Linked DNA regions of Homo sapiens. The protein of the gene in region 1 purifies or fractionates together with the protein of each later gene. This does not show direct contact. Each region holds a gene or a part of one and is shown in the gene's direction. Other genes may lie near its edges.

Evidence for each region. The genes of interacting proteins can lie anywhere in the genome.
Region 2: the proteins of LPIN1 (region 1) and FBXW11 purify together in Homo sapiens (affinity purification with mass spectrometry; 4 studies listed by BioGRID and IntAct, with this or other methods). This does not show direct contact.

The regions. Positions count from the first base shown.
Region 1 is NC_000002.12:11,770,618-11,777,636, forward strand, and holds part of LPIN1 (phosphatidate phosphatase LPIN1), read left to right. Parts: intron 1-754; coding exon 755-1,062; intron 1,063-3,002; coding exon 3,003-3,128; intron 3,129-5,468; coding exon 5,469-5,576; intron 5,577-7,019. UniProt on the Homo sapiens protein: Acts as a magnesium-dependent phosphatidate phosphatase enzyme which catalyzes the conversion of phosphatidic acid to diacylglycerol during triglyceride, phosphatidylcholine and phosphatidylethanolamine biosynthesis and therefore controls the metabolism of fatty acids at different levels.
Region 2 is NC_000005.10:172,003,620-172,011,545, reverse strand, and holds the start of FBXW11 (F-box/WD repeat-containing protein 11), read left to right. Parts: upstream 1-4,907; 5' UTR 4,908-5,043; coding exon 5,044-5,088; intron 5,089-7,926.

The DNA.
Region 1 (7,019 bases):
CACGTTTATTTATCCCCTCTGTTTTATGTATATTCTTATTGTCAACGAGTTTCTCATACAAAATGAGGCATTCATTAATAAAATGATTACTAGAGTTTTATAAAAACTGCTGAATCATTACAAACAACTACTAAATGGACAGGTTGTGTTTTTTCCTTTTGTCTTTAAGGAGAGGATCAGTATCTACTTCCTCGATGTTCAGGGCCCTCCTTGGGCCCTGGTGCAGGCAGGTTCTTGGGCGGGGCTATCGGTTGTTTTACGTGTTTTTGGTTTTTAGATGGTTATTATCTTAATTCATTGCATATAAAAAATACACAATACACATTCTCTGTCTTTCTCTCACACCCACCCATGCACACCCACATCTACACAGAAGTGCAAGAGTGCATCCAATTCCCAGCATAATATGGTGAGTCAAAGCCCATTTTTTTCCTCTGTGCTCTGGGTATTACAGCCAAAGTTGAATTTTGGGGGCTTGAGATCACTGAGAATTACCTCCCATTGTTAAAATTACATAAATGCAGGATTGAGTACAAAGTGGCATTCAATACATTGTTGGCTTTCTGATCTTCTACCAGATTGGGCAGCCACATCTCCAGGTCACCATGGCTGTGGCCTCTAGCTGGGCCATCTGCTGTGGCCCTCCCCAGGAGGTGCTTGGCCTCTGAAGTGAATCCTGGAGGCCTCTGGCAAGGCCCTGCTTCTTATACCTGAATTAACGAGGCTCTTTTTAGAAAATGTGTTCTTTTCTTAGGAAGTTATCCCTATGCACCTGGCCACCTCCCCCATCCTGTCAGAAGGAGCTTCGAGAATGGAATGCCAGCTGAAAAGGGGCTCTGTGGACAGGATGAGAGGCCTGGACCCCAGCACGCCAGCCCAAGTGATCGCTCCCAGCGAGACGCCGTCAAGCAGCTCTGTAGTAAAGAAGAGAAGAAAAAGGAGGAGAAAGTCACAGCTGGACAGCCTGAAGAGAGATGACAACATGAACACATCTGAGGATGAGGACATGTTCCCCATCGAGATGAGCTCGGATGAGGCCATGGAGCTGCTGGAGAGCAGCAGGTAATAACTGTCCAGGGTGGAGGGGCTGTGCCAGAATCAGACAGTTAACTGTTCAAGATTATTTTTATGAACTTTTCCCCCATAATTCCTTATTCTTTTATGTGTTTTAGACCAGTGGTCCCCAACCTTTTTGGCACTAGGGACCAGTTTTGTGGAAGACAGTGTTTCCATGGACCAGGGGTGGATGGTTTTAGGAGGACTCAAGCATATTACATTTATTGTGCTCTTTATTTCCATTACTATTACATTGTAATATATAATGAAATACTTATACAACTCGCCATCATGTAGAATCAGTGGGAGCCCTGAGCTTGTTTTCCTGCAACTAGACGGTCCCATCTTGGGGGTGATGGGTGACAGATCATCAGGCATTAGATTCTCACAAGGAGTGCGCAGCCCAGATCCCTCACATGTGCAGTTCACAACAGGGTTCGTGCTCCTGTGAGAATCTGATGCTGCCACTCATCTGGCAGGAGGAGGAGCTTAGGTGGTAATGTGAGGGATGGGGAGCGACTGCAAACACAGATGAAGCTTTGCCAGCTTGCCCGCCGCTCACCTCCTGCCATGTGGCCCAGTTTCTAACAGGGGCATGGACCCCAGGGGTTGGGGACCCCTATTTTAGGCTGAATTTTGGAATCATGTGGACCCAATCCTAGAGTGGTATAAAGATTTGCTGTGCTGTAGCCAAGAGACAGTTGGTGATGCCAAACCTCCTTGGCTGATCGCTTTAGCAGCCTGGAATGGAGTCAAGAAACAGGAACTGAGCAAATTAATAGTTCATGACCAAACCCATTTTCTTGGAACCTATTTATTCTTATTTGAGCACCAACGATGCACAACTGGGCTGATTTATAGGCAAGGGCTGATTTCAGGCTTAAAAGTGAATGAAGAAAATGCTGTTTTCTCTATAAGCCAACTTTTTCCTTTTTAATTTTGACTTAGGTCCAAAGTTTAATGGAAATTTTGTTTCCTTTTTCTTTGCTTTTAACAGTGTGGTGAAATTCTGTTTGTATGTATTACTATTTTGGTGAAAAATGCCAGTTTTAAAAGATAAAATTCATTTTGAAGGATATTTGATGTTTCAGATTTTTACATAATTCGGTATAATTTTTGATAATTTTGTTAACATAAAGAAGGGATAAGGGGAATCAGGAGTATCTTCCTGTGTCATTATTTGGAATAAAATATATCTTTTTTCGTGGTGAAAAATAAATGTCAACTGGCAACGAATATTGCTTTTCCCAACTACAGCCTCTATCTAACCTGTGACAGGCTTAGAACCAGCGTCATTGGGCTTCTTATAATTGCCTTCTCTGCATGGCTGTTAAGTACAAAATTTAGTGGTAGGTGTTCCAGGTAACATCAACATATAGACAGATGGCCTCTGCATGATTGAAATTGTGAATTGTATTTAGTAGTGAGTGTGCTTATACCTGAAACGAGGTCATTTGCAGTTATTCTGTAATCGTAAGGCATGTTTGGTTGATGCCATTTATTTCTTCTGCTAGACAAAATGTGATCAGCGTATGGTCATTGAGTTATTCAGCAGTTCTGCCTGTACCTGGCAGGGGTTTTATACCGCCCTGGGGCCGGTTTGGGGCCACTCTACCTCCCAGGCTTTTGGAACATGACCGTGTAGGGTAGCAGGAGGTGGCACGATGGGAGGATCCAGCAGTGTGATCACTGCATGTGTGTCTGAGTCCAAATGCTGAAACAAAATCATTTTACAATTAGAATTCGGCCAAAGCATTAGCACATAGACACGTTTATGGATGCCGGTATCTCACTTTTTCCCCCTCCACTGCCTGGAACAGATCTGGGTGTTTAAAGAGATCATGTTAATTACAAAGCACTTAGAGCTAATCAAGAAAAAATTGGAACTTGATTATGAATCTATCATTAAGAATTCTTTGACTTTAATCTTTTTTTTTTTCCTCCAGAACTCTTCCTAATGATATACCTCCATTCCAAGATGATATTCCTGAGGAAAACCTCTCCCTGGCTGTGATTTACCCTCAGTCAGCCTCATACCCTAATTCGGATAGAGAGTGGTCACCCACTCCCAGGTAAGCTGTTCCCTGTTCCCCTGGCCCAGTGCAGAGGCTTAGAAGTCAGTGATAGGAAGCAATTCTAAGAAAAGAATGAAATAGAAATGAAAAGTGAAAATAATTAGGACCAGGAAAAACACGGTGTAGAGTCGGAGGTACAGATTAGGATCAAACACAGAACATGTTCAGATCATACACTTATATCTGGTGTCAGAATCCATCTGCAGATATGGCTGTTAGCTCCCTGGAGGTGAACTTGAAAGGAAAAACATGTAAATTACATCATGCTAATTGTTAATAGGAGAAAACACAGTGGCAGAGCCTTTCTTGATACTTAGCCCTAAGTAAAATTCAAAAACAGACGTTGCTTCAGGAGCTGCTGAGGTCGTTCAGGGCTATTAGAATGGTGCCTCCGCCACACTTAATCCATTCTGCCGAATTCAAGAATATTTATTTCCCTGAAATGAACTCACAAGTTGCCCTAGAGGAAAACTTGGAGAACTAGAGCTGCTCACTGTGCAGATGCCATCCTGATGACCCCAGAGATGTTTACATCAGTGAAACCTCTGGGAATAGTGAGCCCCCTGGCTAGTTTTCAAAGGACTTGGGGAAGAGGGTAGAGCTAAATCCTGTGTTCTCAACACAGGAAATAATATAACCCCCATTGGGATGAAAATTCATTCTTGGGTGGTGACAAAATCTTAGACGTTATAATGGTTTGTGGTCTCTAAGGGGCCACAGCATTAAAATCTCATGGTGGGTGGAGTTGGGCTATTAATTTCTCAGAATGCTCAGGGGCATGTTGATAATGAAAAAGAGACTGAGAAACGCTGATCTAAATGCCAGTGACATCCTTGGGTTATTCGTATACCTCATGCTTTAGATTCGCTTCTGGTTCATGGTGCCAGCCCTTAGAAACTCTGGGTTCCTACCTGAAGCCGGTCTTATCAAAACGCCACCCCTGGTTCCAGTTTGATCAGGGTAACCTTGTGAATTAGCAAGCAGCAGTCCCCAGTGTGTGCTGACATGGAGGTTGGAGAGAAAATAGATATGTCCCATGCCTGGTTTCCAGCCAATACTGATGTCGCGGGTTAGTCCAGCAGGCTGAGGCTGAGGCCTGTGACAAAGTCCCTGCATGGAGGTCTTCCTGCGTCAGAGCCTAGCCCTGTTCAATAGAAACGTAATAACTAGCTCCATATGTAATTTTAAGATTTCCAGTAGCCCTATTTTTAAAAAGTAAAAAAAAAAAAAAAAGATGAAATTAATTTTAAAGCTATATTTCATTTGACCACAGTATTTCCAAAATATCATTTCAACAAGCAATCAATTTTAAAGAATTATTAATGAGATACATCACATTTCTGTTTACATACCAAGTCTTTATAAACTCCATTATGTATTTCACATGCGCAGAACATCCCAATTTGGACAAGCCACGTTTCAAGTGCTCAGGAGCCACCTGTAGCTGGTGGTTTATTATATTGGACAGTGCAGATATAAGACCTTTCTAGATTCTCATTCTTTCTCTAGGTCTGTGGAGATAAAATAGTGGAGGGAAAAATAGTGGTTTAGGAGGAAAATAATGTAGAATATTTAGAACCCAATAATAGATGAAAAAATCTGTTCAAGCACTGTATGTTAATTTTAAGGATTTAAAAGAAACACTTTAAACACAACTCTGAGCGTGTTTAATGCTCAAAACATCTGTAATGTTTTGCCTCATGAATGCAGCATAATGACTGAGTCAGGTTATGTAGCTCTGACTATCACCAAATGGAATGACAAATTAGGATAAATAGCTACATTTCCACATTTGGAATTAGGTATTTTCTGTAAAGAGACAATTGACAGCACACACGAGCACATTTTTGGATTATGTAGTTTGATTAAGCACGAAAGTGTGACCAGAGATGATCAGTTCTACACATGGGTGAAACAGAAAGTGAAATAGGTCATTTGGCAGTTTCCTGCTTTTGTGTCTCAGAAAATTCATGCTGATTTCTTAGCAATTTCAATATCCGGTGCTCTGCCATTATCAGATGTCTGAGTTTCTTTATTTTCTTAAAAATGTCGTTGTTGAGAGTAGTCAAATACTTTACGTAATATATATAATCTTTATATAAAGTATATATACTTTGTAATTATATATAATCTTATATATAATCTTTATATAAAGTATATTATATATACTTTATATAATCTTATATATAGTCTTTAAAGTATATTATATATACTTTATATAATCTTATATATAATCTTTATATAAAGTATATTACATATACTTTATATAATCTCACTTGATGTAATTGACCTCTGATTTTGTCTTTCTTTTAATGTGTATCACGTGGTGGTATCCAGTAGCCTGGTAGATTGCAAAAGGACTGCCCCTCATCTTGCAGTTGCGGCCGAGGGAGGTCTGTCTAGTTCTTGCCCTCCACAGTCTTCCCTGTTCCATCCTTCGGAAAGGTAGAGGAGTTATTTTCCCCATTGGGATATATTCAATAATGAAAAATTTGATCTAACTCTTACTATAAGTCTATTTTACCATTAACCAAATTACTTATGAAGAAAATACCTGTAGATTATATGAAGTGAAAATTTTGATTTAACTTTTACAAATCGATTTCACTAACCAAATTACTTATGAAAAATATGTATATAGATTACTCTTTTCCTTTCGTTATAAGCATTTGTAGATGATCAGATTTTTTTTTTTTTTTAATTCCTAAATTTGACTCTCTGGAAATTATGGTTAAGCATATAATTTTACCTAATTCTGTGAAGTGCTTTGAAAATGAGAATAATGAAATATAGCTTGGGAATATGATCTTCTGTTTTCTGTCTCGGGTTGTTTGACAAATAAGTTTACAAGATATTTTTGGAATACCACTTTAATTTATTATAAACATTTAAGTAGTTTATTGGGCTGTCTGAATAATGGAGTCAGACACTTTCCACAGCATTTCTAGAACAGAATCTTGGAGAATGGCCTGGGCTGGGTCTCAGGCTGAGGATCAAAGGTTGGTGTGTTCACTCGATGTAGTCATCTCAGATTTCTGCCTTCATTCCCTCAGTTTTGACCTACCTACTTTGTGGACTTACATGGTTTACTTTGTAAGCCTTAGCAAATGAAGCTACGATTAATTTGTACGTGGAAAACCTTTTGTCTTTTTGATTAAAGATCCAGACCTCAGGATGTACTTCATTCAGAGGCTACATTTGCAGAAGAAAAGTCCGTTTAAAATGAGGAAAACAAAGTTGTTAATAGTTAAAACTAACTAGCCTTATTGGGACTGGCAAAAATACTGAAAACTTTGATAAGGCTAATAAATACCTTGTTTATGAACATCAGTCATTGACCTTGTAAGCTTACTTTTTTGAACAACCCTTGATCTTAAAATAATAATATTTCATGACGGAGCACTTTGGAGTCATCTTTCTGGTAAATCCCACTTGGCAGTGGGCCCCATTCCTGCGTCCTTTTTGGTCTGTCTGAATTCCCTCAGTGACGGTCGGCAGAAAGCGCATCTGTGTTTGTGCACGAGACCTTTGGAGAAGGGTTGCTGTGGCCTGAACGGGCAGCATTTATGGTGGTGGCCTGTTTGCTGTTGGGGAGGGACTTGCAGCAGACTTTCTCGTAGGGCTGGGCTCCTTATGCGTGAGTTGCACGCCTGAGTGCCTCTATGGGTTTTGTGGCTCGTGGCTTTTATGAAGGGACCAGAATGTTAGGAACTCTGGAGTTGGGAATTGCTGCAGGAGAACCGTGTTCCGCATTTCGTTCTTCTAGAGCAGAGGTTGGTAAAGCACGGCCCATGGGTCAAATCTGGTCCACCATCTGCCTCTGTCAGACTTTCCCGGGCATAGGCAGTTGGTTTACATACTGGCTGTGGCTGCTTTCACACCACCACA
Region 2 (7,926 bases), on another chromosome or scaffold:
AGTACAAGACCAGCCTGACCAACATGGTGAAACCCTGTCTCTACTAAAAATACAAAAAATTACCCAGGTGTGGTCGTGGGCGCCTGTAATCCCAGCTACTTGGGAGGCTGAGGCAGGTGAATTGCTTGAACCCAGGAGGTGGAGGTTGCAGTGAGCCGAGATTGTGCCATTGCACTCCAGCCTGGGCAACAAGAGCAAAACTCTGTCTCAACAAACAAACAACCCCCAAAATTAGCTGGGTGTGGTGGCACGCACCTGTAATCCCAGCTACTTATGGGCAGCTGAGGCAGGAGAATCTCTTGAACCTGGGAGACGGAGGTTGCAGTAAGCCAAGATTGCGCCACTGCACTCCAGCCTGAGCAACAGAGTTAGACTCTGTCTCAGAAAAAGAAACAAAAAAAAGCCTGGGCACGGTGGCTCAGGCCTGTATTCCCAGCACTTTGGGAGGCCGAGGCAGGTAGGTCACGAGGTCAGGAGTTCAAGACCAGCCTGGCCAACATGGTGAAACCTTGTCTCTACTAAAGATACAAAAAATTATCCAGACTTGATGGAGCACGCCTGTAATCCCAGCTACTCAGGAGGCTGAGGCAGGAGAATTGCTTGAACCCGGGAGGCGGAGGTTGCAGTGAGCTCAGGTCACGGCCACTGCACTCCCGCCTGGGTGACAGGGCGAGACTCCATATATAAATATAAATATAATATATAAAATATAAATATATAAAAATATATAAATATAAATATATATAAATATATAAATATAAATATATAAATATATAAAAATATAAATATATATACACATACATATATATATGTATATATTATATATATGTATGTGTGTATATATATATATATATATATATATATATATATATATATATATATATAGTTACAGGAAATTGCCTACTGAGGTGCCACTAAACTCACCGGGAAGCCACCACCCTCTGAATGTCCCAGCCCCCTTTGTGTGTGGGGAGGAAGGGATGGTTCTATAAGCCATTTGCTGCCATGTGCCACAAAGCAAGAAGGAAAAGAAAGTACACTGGAACCAGGATGAGAAGCCCCTTCATTCTGCTGTGTTCCTCTAGTGCTCTCTACTGACAAAGTTAAACACTGTGCCAGCTGGCAGAGAAGTATTTACAGGATCCTGCTCCAGTATTTCAAAGCATAGAAAAGAAGGTTAGATTTGGAGCTATGAGGTTATAAATTGATGGCAGGCACATACATGTTCTGCTGCAGAAGAAGGTATTTGATTACGGAGTGCTGTCCTGAGACCCCAGAAGGAGTGTTACATTGTACAGTTTATGTAATGCACCATTGTGCCTTTGTACAATCTAAGCAATTCTGGGTTCTGAACTGGACCTCAGGGGAATCACGACCTGTACCACTTTGTTATGATCATGTCTTGCAAACCTCAGTGAAGAGCTATCTGAAACACGGTGGGAAAATATGCCTCAGGGTGTTCTGCCTTTGTCTATGACCAAATCTAATCAACAGCTGCCATCAAGCCTGAAGCAATAAGAGCACCTGAGTTCTTGTTTGAGAAGAGGTGAGAGCAAGGTGATAAAGCCTTGGCTCAGCTTGCCTCTTACGTAGCTTGGATAAGACTTCTTTTATCATATATATAGTGTTTATTTATTTATTTATTGTTGTTGTTTTGAGACAGGGTCTTGTTCTGTCACCCAAGCTGGTCTGGTACCCAAGCTGGTCATTCTGTCACCCAGGCTGGAATACAGTGGTGCAATCATGGCTCACTGCACCCTTGACCTCTCAGGCTCAAGTGATCCTCCCACCTCAGCCTCCTGAGTAGTTGCAGCCACAAGCGTGAGCCATCATACTTGGCTAATTCCTATGTATGAGCTTTTAACCCCACTGAGCTCCTGGAATTTGACCTAATAATATTAGTACTTTTTTCCTTTTAAGGCAGCATACAATTTTCTTTTTTTTTTTTTGTAGATCATGGTGCAGCCACAGAGATGGTAGCCCCTCCCTATGCTCCCAGGTATACGATTTTAATAAAAGGACAGAAACCTTGATTTATCTCCACTACAGTTCCAATGCCAGGGGATGCAAACTCAAATATCTATACAGGTTAGGGATGCAACTTAAATGAGTGAAGCATGCAGATACAAGGCAAAAAGGAGTGATGGCAACTGTGGAAAACCATAGAATATATGCTTAAATAAAGGTAGTTGCTATTTAACCCCTGCATATTGTTGCCATGTAGATCTAATTGTCAGATATTCTAATTTTTCAAGAAAAGCTGGAAATTCAGATTTTGAAAACCTGAACATCAAATTTTAAAAACAGTAAAAAAGACGGTATAGGACAAACATATGTATGTGCCGGGTCGGCGGGGGGAGGGTCACATCCAGCTTGTGACTCCTACCCCATGCCTGTTTTTATGCCCCTGTACAATCCTTTCCCACACTGACTATGGGTGTGGCCATACTACTAGTTTTGGCCAACGGGACATTACCAAGTGTGGTGCATACCAGAGGTTTGATAAGCATTTGTTCACTGGGGCTTGTCCTTTCTCAAGTCACTATGCAGACGTTTGAATGATAAAAAGCCACAGGGAGGAGAGGCCCTAGAAGATGAAAAGTCATTTTGAATGAGTTCCCAGCTGATTGCATGTGGGCCCCGGCTGAGCCCGGGTCAGCCCACACAATTGTAAAATCATAATAAACCATTGTTATTCTAAGCTACTAAGTCTTCGGAGGTTTGTTGTGTTGCAACAGGTAACTGAAATAGAGGTCATATCTAATCCCTTTGTTTTACTAATGAATGTCCTAAGGGCCATAGTGGAACGGACCTGGTGAAATTCAGATAGCATGACAGTGGTAAGAACTTTCCAATTCTGTGCTCTTCCTATTGCTTTTCTTTCAATTCCCTTGGTGAAAAGCACCAGGTAAGGACTATGAAACTTCAAAGTCTACCTGCAGGGAACTTATACTGTGTCCTGAATGCATGCAAATTACTGTAACTTGGTCCTTGGTAATGGAAAGATTTCTAGGTCATCCAGCCTCTTTGACTTTATAGGTGCAGAGAATGCAAAAACACTTTGAGAAAGTGAAAAGCAGCCTCTGATATCTGGAAGCTGGCCTGGTACAATCAGCCATGCCATGATGTTACTAGACCACAGCCTGGCCCTTATAGCTAGGCTTTGTGTTTTCCTGTAGAACAAAAACAATTCCAAAGAACATCAACATCAGACGAGGTCATTCTGTGACCATGATAGATCCAGACAAATACAAGACCACTCTATAATCAGGTCTAAACACGATAAAAAGATAAAACCTGATGATTGTCCAAACCACAAAAAATGACTCAACATCCCCACTTGGCTAATATGAGGGAGCTGCTGCTGCACTTTTTTTTTTTTTTTTCGTTTTTGAGACAAGGTCTGGCTCTATCACTCAGGGTACAGTGGAGTGGTGCGATCTCCATTCACTGAAACCTCCACTTCCTGGGCTCAAGCGATCGTCCCACCTCTGCCTCCCAAGTAACTGAGATGACAGGCGCGCACCACCAGGCCCGGTTCATTTTTGTATTTTTTGTAGAGAAGAGTTTCGCCATGTTGCCCAGGCTGGTCTGGAACTCCTGCGCTCAAGCAATTCGCCTGCCTCGGTTTACCAAAGTGCTGGGATTACAGGCGTGAGCCACTGCGCCCGGCCAGGCTGCTGTTTCTTTATCTGCACAGCTTTAGCCTCAATCTAGAATTCCCTTCCTCTAGATAAGATGAACTGAGATGCTCAATCATGGAACGACCCTCTCTTCCTGACAGTATCTAATCCAGTGAAGCTCTCACTTCCTTAAACCCTCTCCCAAATCACTAACAACTCTTACCGAGAGGCCCTATCGTTCCTCAATGTGTGTTCTCAGTCACTGCAACTAGTAATAAACCCAGCTTGTTCAACGATCCGTGTCTTCCTGGTGGGATTTGGTTAGAGGGCACGGACAGACCTAAGTTACACAGAGTTGGAGGCTGAGTTCACTAGAAGGAGTCTCCGCTTGTGTGTTCCTTCTTAGCCACTCTTTTGGTTAGTGTCTGTCGTCCCTCCACCAGAATTAAGCTCCATGAGAACAGGAGCCTTGTCTGTCATGTTCAGAGCTGATTCTCAGCGCCTAGAACGGTACGCAGCGGAAGCTGGATGCTTAAAAAATAACCATTTTCTGAACGAATGAATGAGGGGCTCGATATACGCACGTCCCCTTTAATCTCGCAGCTCCTCGCAGATCGTGTGACATACAGACAGCACCACAGCACATTTCCCAAAACCCCGTCTTTCCCGAAGAAATCTCGAAACTCTCACTCCTGGGATGCCCATCCTCTCAGAGCCTCTTCCCCAGGCCGAGCTTCTCTCACTCGCTGGCCCCTTCCCACACCTGAGCCCCAGGTCTATACACCTTCCTAACGCACCTAGAACCCACCTGTCTCCACCATCTGCCCCTACCATCAGACACTGCCGGACGGGCCGCGCAGCTACCTAGGCGTCTAGGGAGCACTGCGGCATGGACCGCGCATGTGCGGAAATGGGTCGCATACGCAGGACCTCCGACAAGTGAGGAGTTGCCTCGGAGTTTCCGTCCCGGTCTGGGCAGCCTTGGGCTGCCAGGAAGTCAAGAGAAGCTAGCCGGAAGGACAACCCGGGCGCACGGCTTTCTGGGACACGTAGTCGTGGCGCTCTCGAGGCCCTGCCATGAGCAAGCTCTTAACTCTTCAGGTCTGCACGTCCTACGCCCACCGTCCAGTGCTACTCTCAGCTCGGAGTTCAGCTTCGGGCTGCCAAGAGCCAGCAACCTGGTGTCAGAGGCTCGGTCCCACAACGCTCTGCGGGCCGCGGCGCCTGCTGGGAGGTGTAGTCCCCGATCTGCGTACTGCGTTCGCCGAGGGGGAGGGCGGAGCTGCCGGCGGCCCGGGCGGGCTGGCAGCTAGAGTGGGTGCGATAGCCGCCTCCGCCTCTGCCGCCTCCGCCGTCGCCTCCTCCGCCCGGGCCGTTCGCTGCTGCGCGGGGAGAGCGAGGCGGGGCCGCCGGGGCCGCCATGGAGCCCGACTCGGTGATTGAGGACAAGACCATCGAGCTCATGGTGAGTGCGGCCCGCTGGACCGTCTGTGCTTCCGTCCGTCCGGCCCCGGGCGGGCCTGCCCACCTCAACGTCCGGTGCGAGGCCGGCTCTGGCCCTTCCCAGACGCCTCGACCCAGACCCGGGCCCCCAGCCTTCCCTGGCCTCGGACCTGGCGCGGGCTCCTCTGATCCCTCGACATCTCCGGCCGGTCCTGGCCCGGCCCCCTCCATGCCCCTCGCTTCTCCCCCTCCCCCTGGTCCCGTCTCCGGTCCCAGCTCTCGGACGACCCTCGCTCGTTTATGCTGTAGACTTAGGTCGCACTCGCTCTAGCACCCCATTCTCCTTCTTTTAGAAAGGGATTTTTTTTTCTTTCCTCTGTTTCGGCCCAGGCCCGCACCGCGCTTGCAAGCCCCACTCAGGCCGAGTGAGATGGTGGGAAGGAGTACGGAGATGGGTTGGGGCCGCCTGGGCCTCCGCGTCCTAGGAGAGGTCTCAGCACCCACTCCCCAGCCTAGGTCTGTGTGGATGCCAGGATAGGCCCTACAGAGCTGGGGGGGCAGGGAGCTTTCGGGTTTGAGGCTGTGGCGGATAAGGAGGCCTCTTTCCCGGGCCCTTGTGGTGTCCGGCTTCTCGGACAAAGGGTTTCCTACCCGGCGGAGAGGGATGTTTGCATAGCAAGGGCCCAGGTACTCTGGATTCCATCCTCCAGGAAAGAGAAGGCGCAACTTCACGTTTTCCAGAGCTGCTTTGGGAAATTGGAGATGACTGGGGAGGGAGCCATCCTCATCACTGCCGCGAGGTCTTTCTTCTCAGAAAGAAAAAAAAAAGAGGGGAATCCTTGGCCCCCGGGGGAAGCGACCACTCTTCTGTTAGAAACCACTGGCAGCCAGGCCAGACTCCCGGTCCGTGGACACCCTCCACCCTCCTCCGAAGCTTTAGGATTTGAAACCAGAAGGGGTTTTTAGGAACAGGACAGTGAGAGAGTGGCTAGAAGTGAAGAATTTGCTAATTGATGGATGATTTGGTGGAAGAAATAAAATATGGCAGATATTACCTGCCAACGTGAACATGAGGGAAATCAAATTGGGCTCTGGAGAGCTGGGAAGAGGAAGTCTGCATCAGCAAATGGACATGTCCAGGATTTCTTCCTATGGAAGCCTTGACAGTTTCTTTGTATCTTTCCTAACACGGTAACAACTTCTTCCCCAGGGTTGAGAGGAGAGGTGGAAGAATCTACTTAACCCAGCAAAATGTTTTCCTAGCCAGATTTTCTTCAGTGTGAAAATGTTTATTGAGTCAGTGATTCCACTGGGTAGGGTTGGTGACATCAGAGCCACTTCCCCCATTTAACGCTATAAATAATAAATGGTGACACTGAAAGTCTGTTGGATAGCTGCATGGTTTCTGTGGATGATGGTGTCTGGGGAGTTGAGATGCTTGTTTTAAAAATGGAAGTACAGTAGCATAAATATGGAGGCAGCTTAATGTTTGCTGTCCTTTGCATAATTCACAGAACTGGACTTCTCTAGCATTCTTGAAAACTAGGAGGGAAAAAAAGAAACTGATAGTTTTTGATTTTTGCATGCGTGTGTGTGTGTGTGTGTGTGTGTGCACGTGGGGTTGTTTTCAAAGGGATGTCACATACTGAGTGATTTTTCCTTTTCAGCATAATTTATCATACTTGTAGTCAAGTGTTTGGTATTCTGTAACTTTTGTAGTGGGTTATTTTGGTAACTATCTTAAATCGACTAAGTATATTACATATTCTTAAGAATGTACACACAGTGCATGTACTTACAACAGAAGTACTTCATATCGAAAAATTGTAACTTGGTGCCTCTTTGAAATTGGCTGTTCCCAGCTCCTTCCATTTCTATTCCTTTAAAAAATAACGAAAATGTATTTATTTTCAAAAGAATTATAAGAAATACGTTGTAACCCAAGTCAGTGTATGGTTACAAAATAAAAAAATAAAAACCTTTGGCCTAAATTCACTGGCTTCCTATGCTTATAACTTAAAAAGTTTTGATTTTACATGATAGCACTTGGTTTTGATCAGAAAAGAGATTTCAGCCTGTTAAGGACATTATAAACTGGGATTTAAACTGGAATTCTTTGAAAATTTAACAGAGTTTAGTTATATTACGATTAATTTTAAAATGGCCTTTTATTTAAGGATTTTGATATTTCCTGAAAGGGATATCAGTTAAGACTCTTAGACAACCCTTATCATAAATTAAATATGTGTATTTATTTTAGTAAAGTAGCACAGGTGCTTAACAACTGATTGAGTAAATCCAGGATCAAATGTAGGAAATAATGCCTTAGAATCTAATTGCATGTGGCTTTCTGTTTTCACTGCATTTCAATTACAGTTTCCAGAACTGGGTTAAAAATATTTTTTACATTGGTTTCAAGATAATACGATTGATGGAGGAAAAGGGGTTAAACTGATGGTGTTTTGAAAGCCTAAAGCATGAAATATTTTTAGATTTTTATGAGTCAGCTTCAGTACTCAAATATTTGTGATTGTGCTGCTTGTACCAGTTTGGCACTTAATGCTTAACAAGATAACTTTCATTTGCTGTTCCAAAGTGTGCTGTATTAAAAAGAGGAAACAGACTTCTTGGTTATCTCCATTTTCTAATCTTCATCCCTGTACTTTCCTTAATATTGATTCTTCTGTTTTTCCTTGCATTTTTGATAAGTATATTAGGAAATAAAGCTGGTGATAGCAGAATAGTTAAATTTCTAAAATATAACCCCCACTTTGACTCCTACCGCTGCCTGAGGCCTGGGTCCACCCAGGTTGCTTCTCCTCCTGACCCACTCTATAGGATTCAGCTTTGAATATTAGTA